Regions from separate parts of the Homo sapiens genome. Here regions 1 and 3 are each linked to region 2. Evidence: fine-mapped expression QTL. A gene starts in region 2. Each other region holds a variant in brackets. All regions are shown on one strand. Distances are between the middles of the regions.

What was found.
Region 1: its variant is fine-mapped to the expression of SLC38A11 in lung (TOPMed, PIP above 0.99). The same link has a PIP of 0.9 or more in sun-exposed skin.
Region 3: its variant is fine-mapped to the expression of SLC38A11 in subcutaneous fat (GTEx, PIP 0.96).

What each region holds. Positions count from the first base shown.
Region 1 is chr2:164,987,652-164,990,422 of GRCh38, reverse strand. No RefSeq gene overlaps it. Among named protein-coding and RNA genes, the nearest start is that of SLC38A11, 34 kb to the right of the region's middle. The variant C/A (reference allele first, on the strand shown) is at 1,250.
Region 2 is chr2:164,954,260-164,957,030 of GRCh38, reverse strand. It overlaps SLC38A11 (solute carrier family 38 member 11), which reads left to right and starts at 1,506. Exons shown (of 12, transcript NM_001351537.2): 1 at 1,506-1,822; 2 at 2,286-2,400. The coding sequence starts at 1,784.
Region 3 is chr2:164,255,722-164,258,492 of GRCh38, reverse strand. No RefSeq gene overlaps it. Among named protein-coding and RNA genes, the nearest start is that of GRB14, 360 kb to the left of the region's middle. The variant C/T (reference allele first, on the strand shown) is at 1,264.

The DNA.
Region 1 (2,771 bases), 33 kb before region 2:
TGGTGCGATCTCAGCTCACTGCAACCTCCACCCCCCAGGTTCAAGCAATTCTCCTGCCTCAGTCCCCCGATTAGCTGGGATTACAGGTGCCCACCACCACACCCAGCTAATTTTTTGTGTTTTTAGTAGAGATAGGGTTTCATCATGTTGGCCAGGCTGGTCTCGAACTCCTGACCTCAGGTGATCCACCCGCCTCGGCCTCCCAAAGTGCTAGGATTACGAGCATGAGCCACCACACCCAGCCCAGTTGTCATTTTTATACTAATGACTACTCAATTGATGTACCAAACCAAACCTCTCATCCAAGCCTGGATTCCAATACCTCTAGTTGTCTACAGAACATCTAAATCTTACCATTTGCAAACTGAACACATCATCCTCCCTCTGGTTGGCAAACTAGCTTTTCTCTTTCTCCTATCTCAAATCTTATCTCAGCAGAAGCCAAGGGTTCCATATAGGGCTATCTGTAGAGAAGAGGGTGCTCATCCTATTTCAGCTTTCAGAATTATGATGGGTATGGTGGTCTAAGACAGAGAAATCAATTTGAAGGAATTTGACAGAATATTATAGCTAGTTATAATGGGATGGATAGTAAGCTGTTAGACCTTTCCAGAAAAGAAGTTCTCGAAGTAAAAGGCAGAGTTCTGACCTTTTATATAGAAACTGGTGCAATGGTTATGGGTGGAGGGGCAGCTGTTAAGGATGTCCAGTTTAGACATCTCTTAGCAAACTGGAAAGCTATCTCCTTCATGCTTATACTGAAGACCCATTTGTTAATTACATGCATGTTGTCTTAGTCCATTTGTGCTCCTGTAACAAAATACCACAGACTATTTTATAAAGAAAAAAATGTACTTTCTCACAGTTTCAGTGGCTGGAAAATATAAGGTAAGGCTCTAGGCATTTGATCTAGTGAGGGCCTTCTTGCTGCATCCTCACATGGCATAAGGTGGAAAGGCAACTAGACAAGCACTGTGTGACGCCTCTTTTATAAGGGCCTTTTAACTCCATTAGCCAGGAAGAGACTGTAAGGCCTAATCACCTCTTAAAGACCATCTTAATACCTTAATACCGATCTCAATCACTTCCTAATACCATCATATTGGCAACAACTGAACTTCGGAGGGGACACATTCAAATCATAACATATGTTGTAATAAGCTGCAAAATGTAAGTTTTAATAGAATAAACTTTTGTTTACCTCTATCATTTATTCACTCTATGAGTTTTTTTGTAATAAATTTTTATC[C/A]CAATATTATAACGATCTCTCAGGAAATCTCTTTATGGTCTGAGATCATCTGACAGCACCATGTACAATCTGTCCTTCTCATAGGAGCAGATGAAATCAACCAGTGGTATTGATGGTTATCTTTTCTTAAGCCGGTTATTGCAGGCATCTGTCTGTCTCTTTGTGGAAGACTCCATGCACATTACCACAGGAAGGAGATCTTGTGATGTAGGCAACTTCCTGGTTAAAGCTCTTGTCAGTTTAAACATGATTACTTACTTTCTGACGTTTGCACTAAGTAGAAAAATATGGTACTTAGAGTCCTAATGAGTATCAACTTTAACCTACCCCAAATGAGGTAAGATCATTGGATATCAGAATTGGAACACAATTTATGTCCTGAAAAAAATAATGAGAAAGATCAAATAAGAGTTATGTAATCTTACTGCAACAACCTAGCTGTAGGAAATAGACACCCTCTATCATCTGCCCCAAAAGATGGAGTGGTCTGAGCCACTAATCCAATTCTAGGGATCCAGATGATTCAGGTAATTCATGAATCCCATCTTCAGACAGAAGGCAAGAGCAGTGCATGAGATATCTCAGTAGCATGATATTCCATTTTATAGGAGCTAAGGGGAAATTGAAACTCTGTGTAGAGTCTCTGTCTCTTAGTGTACTGAAATTTCTCTTTCATTGTAATAAAAAAGATCTGGCCCAAAGGAAAAAAAATTGTCAAAAATTTTGGTATTTCTCAAGGCACCTGAACAAATATACCATAGCCATCTAGGGTTATATTGTCACCACCAGTTGTGTAATTAAAACAAAAAAAACCTTTAAAATTCAGTATCAGAAAGATATAATTAAGAAGAAGAATATCCTTTTATGTATGACAAATCAGCATGTAAATACTTAAAGACTAAAGCTAAGTTATTTTTAAACTATTCATTTTTAAATGATTTGTACAAACATTCCTCTAGGATATGACATTTAAAAATAAAATGTGATTCTATTTATAAAGTCTGTATTAAACAGAATGCTGTATTAAATAAATATATCTAATATGAATGGAATTAGAACTAAATTTTAGTTTGGACAATAGATATTTGTCCAAAAAACTTAAGATTGCAGAAAAGGCTACAATGGCTGATTTCCTTTGGCAAATGGTGGCATACTGCAAGAAAATTTTATCAGAAAATTTTTGTTTTGTCCTTATTTTAGCCTAAGAAAGTTTATAATTCAATTCCCCTTACAAATATATCATAATAAAGATTAGGTGAATTTACCTTGTAAGAGGAAAATTGGAAAAGAGGAAATATCATATAATTTGTAACAACATTTGCAAGGAAAATTCTATAATTAATATATGCCAAATATATTTAGTGAAACCAGAGTTTATTGTTTACCATGCAGCTAGAAGTCCTAATATATTTTTCTTTGCTCTTTTTTTCCTGTTTTTAATATAATCTGTTCCTAAAAACTGCCCAAGTCTTCACCAGCCAACTTAAGGTGATTCCGTGACACCCCATTAAGTTATCATTTA
Region 2 (2,771 bases):
CTTAATATCTTTCAGTAGGGGAAGGCTGACTTAACTGTTAGATAAAATGAAAAAAAAATCTGCATATATCTACATCATACATGCTGAAAACAAAAATGCCAGTGGAAAAATAACATGTACAATATGGCACCATCTTTGTAAATGTTGAAAATACAAAAGCCAATGTTATATATTGTTTATGGCTATAAATGAACGGATTAAAATACAAAGTATGAATAGCAAAGATAACACTAACTTGATGAACCGATGACTCCAGGGCTGAAGGCCTGGGGAAAGGAATGGAGAAGGTCAAGGGGGTTCCTATTGTGACATTGTGTTTACTTTTACAATTTGAAGAAAATATGACAGCATGTTAACATTTGATGGCAGAGTGTATATAAAGTTTATAAGTCTTTTGTTTTCCCACGGTTTTTAATTTTTTTTCTTAATTATAAGTAAACATGTATGAAACAGAACCTCTTTAATTAGGTACAGTTGGCCTCTATATCCCCACTTCTGCATCCATGCATTAAACCAATCCCAGATCAAAAATGTAGTTAGGGCTAGGATGGATGTGTCTATACTGAACACATATGGACTTTTTTCTTATTTCCTAAACAATACAGTATAACAACAAGTAAATAGCATTTACATTGTATTAGGTATTATAAATAATCTAGAGATGATTTAAAGTATGCTGGAGGATGTGCCTAGGTTACATGTAAATACCATGCTGTTTACTATCAAGGACCTGAGCATTCCTGGATTTCAGTATCTGCAGGGGTTCCAGAACCAATCCCCTATGGATATCAAGGGAAGGCAGAATTTGTTAAGTATGATGGCATATCACCGCTCTTATTGCCCCTGAAACTGTTGTCTCATGCATTCTGTCTCTGATATTGAATACTCTCTGGGCTTGTTGCTTCATCTGTAATGTAAGAGGACTGAATAGGTGGTCATTGAAGATTCTTTCTAGCTCAGGCACTGTAGGTGCCACCCCTTTCCCAAACCCTTGTACTCCTCTTTCCCTTTTCAAGGTTCATTACCTGAATGCAGTAACAATCCACCTTCATTTTCTCTATCGCTCCTTTTTCTAAAAGTTACCAGGAAGCGTTTGACCAAAGCATGCTCAGTAGTCAAGTTTGCTAAAACCCTAGGAAAGTTTTTTGTTTTGCTATTCATTTTCTTATGAGTCTTTCCATTTCCATTTACAATAAAAGTCCCAAATTTTCACTCGTCGTCTCTGCCATTGAAGAGGGGTAGCGAGGAGGAGGTGCTAATAGGGAAGATGGCCCATGGGCCCAAGGGTGCTTCTGCGTTCTTACCTGGGCTTCAGACCCCAGCAAAGGAGAAGCTAACTTAGGAACGGACTGCAACGAGGCGGTCATAACTCTGTGAGATCGGGGCAGGGCAGCGTGGGTGGAACAAGTTGTCCTCTGCAGCTCCAGGGAAGAGTAGCTCTCCCTGTTCTCTCAGGGAGGCGGGGGTGTGAAGGGGGGAGGCGGGGAGACAGGGCTGCCCGGATCAGAAACATCCTGCAGCATCTCCGTCTCCGGAGGAAAAATACATTTGTCTGGGCGAACTCCGGTGGAAAAGCGCCCCAGGCTGCCACAGCCTAGAGATCTTGGGGCTGCAGCCCTCGCGGCCTGCCGAGGGAGCAGGGGGCGCCCGTGGAACTGGCTCCCTGCAGCTCTGCGGCTACACGCGGACCTCGGCTGTGTGCGAGGTGGCGGAGGAGGCTGGCCGGGTGCGAATCCGTACCCAGCCCCAGCATCTTCCACCTGCTGAGGACCACCGCTCAGCCATGGGCTACCAGAGGCAGGAGCCTGTCATCCCGCCGCAGGTAAAACTAGCGACTAGGCAGGTTCTGAAGCCAGTTGTCCGGAAATTTCATTCACCTTGCAACAGGTCAGGTCACCTACCTTCACCTGGGCTCTTGGTTTAGCACCGCGAAAAGTTCTCTGGGACAAAAAGTTTTGCCTTAATCTGACTTTTTTTTTTTTTTTTCTTAGCAGGCACTTTAATTTCACAAAATCACATCACTGAATTCCTAACAGATCCTGTACTTAGCAGCTGGGGCAGCTGTAATCTGGAAATTTTAGGATGGAGTTTGCTTACCAAGCTCTGTTGAATTACTAGCTGTTATTGTTATTCTTTATTACTGTTATCCCGGCATTTATTTTATTTTCATTAGTGACATTACTTATTATTACTAGAAAATCGTGTTAGTATCCTGCATTACATATTTGTTACTTTTCTAATTTTCTGAACTAGTATTTGCTTATAATTGCTATTTTATCTATTAGAGAGATTTAGATGACAGAGAAACCCTTGTTTCTGAACATGAGTATAAAGAGAAAACCTGTCAGTCTGCTGCTCTTTTTAATGTTGTCAACTCGATTATAGGATCTGGTATAATAGGTAAGTGTATTTGCTTTGGTTTAAATTTTAAGTGAAAGGGCAAAATTTAAGACTCGCTACGCTGCTAGTGTTCATTAATTATTTTTAAAGAAAAAAAGACTTAAATAAGAAAATTGGTAATTTTCTTCCATAAAAGGCTTCCTTTTTTTCTAGTGTAACAGTATGTATGCATGTCTTTTATGCTGAAGATGGGGCTGTAATTCACACTGTTTCCACAGTTGAGAGCATCTTCCACATGTGGTAGATTAAGGTGAAACTGCATATGGGTGGTGGTGAATCATTTTTCTGTAGGCTGCGTGGTTGATTGCTAGTGTTACCGAATGTACTTTTTCCACTTACTGAAGGGTCCATCATTATTTGAATCATCTTTC
Region 3 (2,771 bases), 700 kb after region 2:
AGATATAGCATCATTTTCCTTTTCTTATATTGTTTTGCTCTAAGTTTTATTTTATCAGATATTAAGATAACTACCAATATTTGTTGGTTGTTATTTGTCCAGTACATTTTTTCCATCTTTATTATATTTAAACTTTTTGGTTAAGTATGAGTATGGATTTAGAGTGTTTAAAAACTTTATTCAGGCTTTTTATATTGCTGAAACCTTTTAAGGGAGCTCATATCTCTTATAAAGGTTATATAAACATTATTCTGATAAAAAAATACATCCACTCAGCTCAGATGTAAGTGAAAATAGTCCATTTAGAAATGAAAAGACCATAATATTGCAGAGCTAGTTAATTGTCTAGGTTTGCAGGTTTATACAGTAAATTATTTAAAGAATGTCTCAAATTTCACTTGGTTTCATACCGTGGAGGCTGAACTTGAATCTGGTGTATTTCCCAGGTTTGTGAAAAGATGTGCAGATGTGAGTAAGAACTTGGAGCTCTTTGAGCCACCTGCTTAGTCATGGTAGTGCAACTGTTGAAAATATGGGCTCTATTAAAAATTCCTCAGTGAGCTATACCACGGAGTACTACCAGCTGGTAGTTTTCCTGGCATATAACTATGGTTCAGTGCCAGCTGCATTGAGGCAGGGCATGAAAAGCAAGATTGAATCCTAGAAGCCGGTAATTAGGTTCATGTGCAATGCTAGGTGACTGAGCTCTTTAAATGAGAAGGTTACAATTTGGAAGGAGACAGAAAAGAACCCGGAATAGAGTATAAAAACAAATATTTGGTAGATTCTTTTTTCTTCTCATGATTGGCTTTAATTGGATTTTTAACAAGTGTATATTAAAAGAAGCAAATTATTCATATTTCAGGCTGCCAGTGTAAGCTAGAATAGATATGTTTGCATGTGAATTATGATAGTTATATTTCCATTTGTCCTTCTTTGTTTAAACGCTGTTTAGATGTATTTTGAAGTTTTTAGAGTACCATGTGTTATTTTGAAAATATATCTTTGAATGCAACTTCTCCCTTGTGAATCAATAGTAATAAGTTAAATCAGAAAACACTGTTTCTCTTTAAAGCTTGGCCATTCTGGGGCAAGTTACAGGCACTTATTTTGATGTTTTACTTTCAAGTTGTCTAAGCAAATTGGAAATAGTGCATTGAAGGCACTTTCACATGTGATATCTGTTAAATGTCATTTACAATTTATGTATTCTTACACAGAATTTTCCCTTCTATCTTTGAAGACTGATAAATAAAATCTCTC[C/T]CCTGCTACTCATTTTTTTCCTATTTGGCAAAGGGAATATTGAAATATATCTTTTAATACTGTAGATAAACAAGGCTATTATTTTATTATTTTATTCATCAATTTCCAAAGGAATGTGACATTTTCCAGCAGCCTCCTTCTTTACAATTACATTTAGTTTGGCAGTGAGATGTGTTTATTTTTAATCCAAGTAATTTCTTCTAAAAATAAAATGCCTCTTAACCCCCACCCCTGAAGGTAAGTGGTAAATTGTACAATCATACTTTTTCATCTATGTGTGAGATATTTACATTAAATATGCATGTCATATATAATATATGCATAGCTGAAAGCAAAAACTGCCACAGTGTCAGAGAGGAATCATTTAAAGAATTTATTCCATAAAACATCTAAAACACTATAAAGAATTAACTAATCCTAATGCAAAGCAACACAAATATGCAGTTGGCACAGCTTATTTTTGGAAGGCAGGGTTTAAGTATATATATATACATATATATGTGTGTGTATATATATTATTTTCTCTCAGTAGATCCATATGTCTCATAATAAGCACACACTGCATGAGATGAAAAGGAGACTAAATACATACATGTATACATGTAATTTTTATGCTACTGCAGTTGAATGTATTGGCTTCATCACTTTAATTTTCTTACACCCTTGCTAGTTCGTTCAATACCTTTACTCAGTATAGGTCAGTCTAAATATGGTAAGATAGGGGATAAAAAGATTTTTTTTTAAATGGAAGAATTGCTCTGATCTGAGGTTCAGCTAATAAAATAAGATAAATCAGAGGCAGGGAGAGGATTGAAGATTTCAGTACATTTAATAAGAATGTCCTCTCATATTTGTAAAGCTCTTAACAGATTTCACCCTCTTCAGTAACCGCTGATATTGTAGATCTCAGAGAGAGTATTTTCAGTGGTGGAACCCTGGCTAATAGGAATTAAGAGATGAGTGAATGGGTAAAAAATCAAGGCAGGGAAAAGACTCTTCTTCTGAGACGTTTGCTATTAAGGAACAATATAAAGCAAAGATGACTGGAAAACCAAAAAAGGCACTTTGTTACACTATATTTTGATTCACTAGAATATATTTATGGGTAGAGGAGAAATGCATAAATGAGAAATTGAAGCATAAATATCGAGCTAGAGGAGAAAAGGATCGTGTTCTCTAATAGAGAGAGGGTAAAATGGGAAAAAGAATAAATAAATATGGAGAAACATTTTTAGTTTGGAATAAAAGCACCGAGGATGTCAATTTTGTGAGATTCTGTAATTACAGTCAGTAGCAGTGTTTCTCCCGAGAAAGAGAAGATTGAAAGACATTTAGAACCTGCTAGAGAAGTTTGTAATTGATGTTGTAGGAAACAGTATAGAAATTAAATAAGGGTTGCTGAAAAGTGCAGTTAAGTACTCAACTGACGCTGAAGTAAGTGGACTCTGTTTAGTGAATTTCACAGCAATTCCTGGCAAAGAGGGAGCAGGAGCTTAGATGGTGTGTGG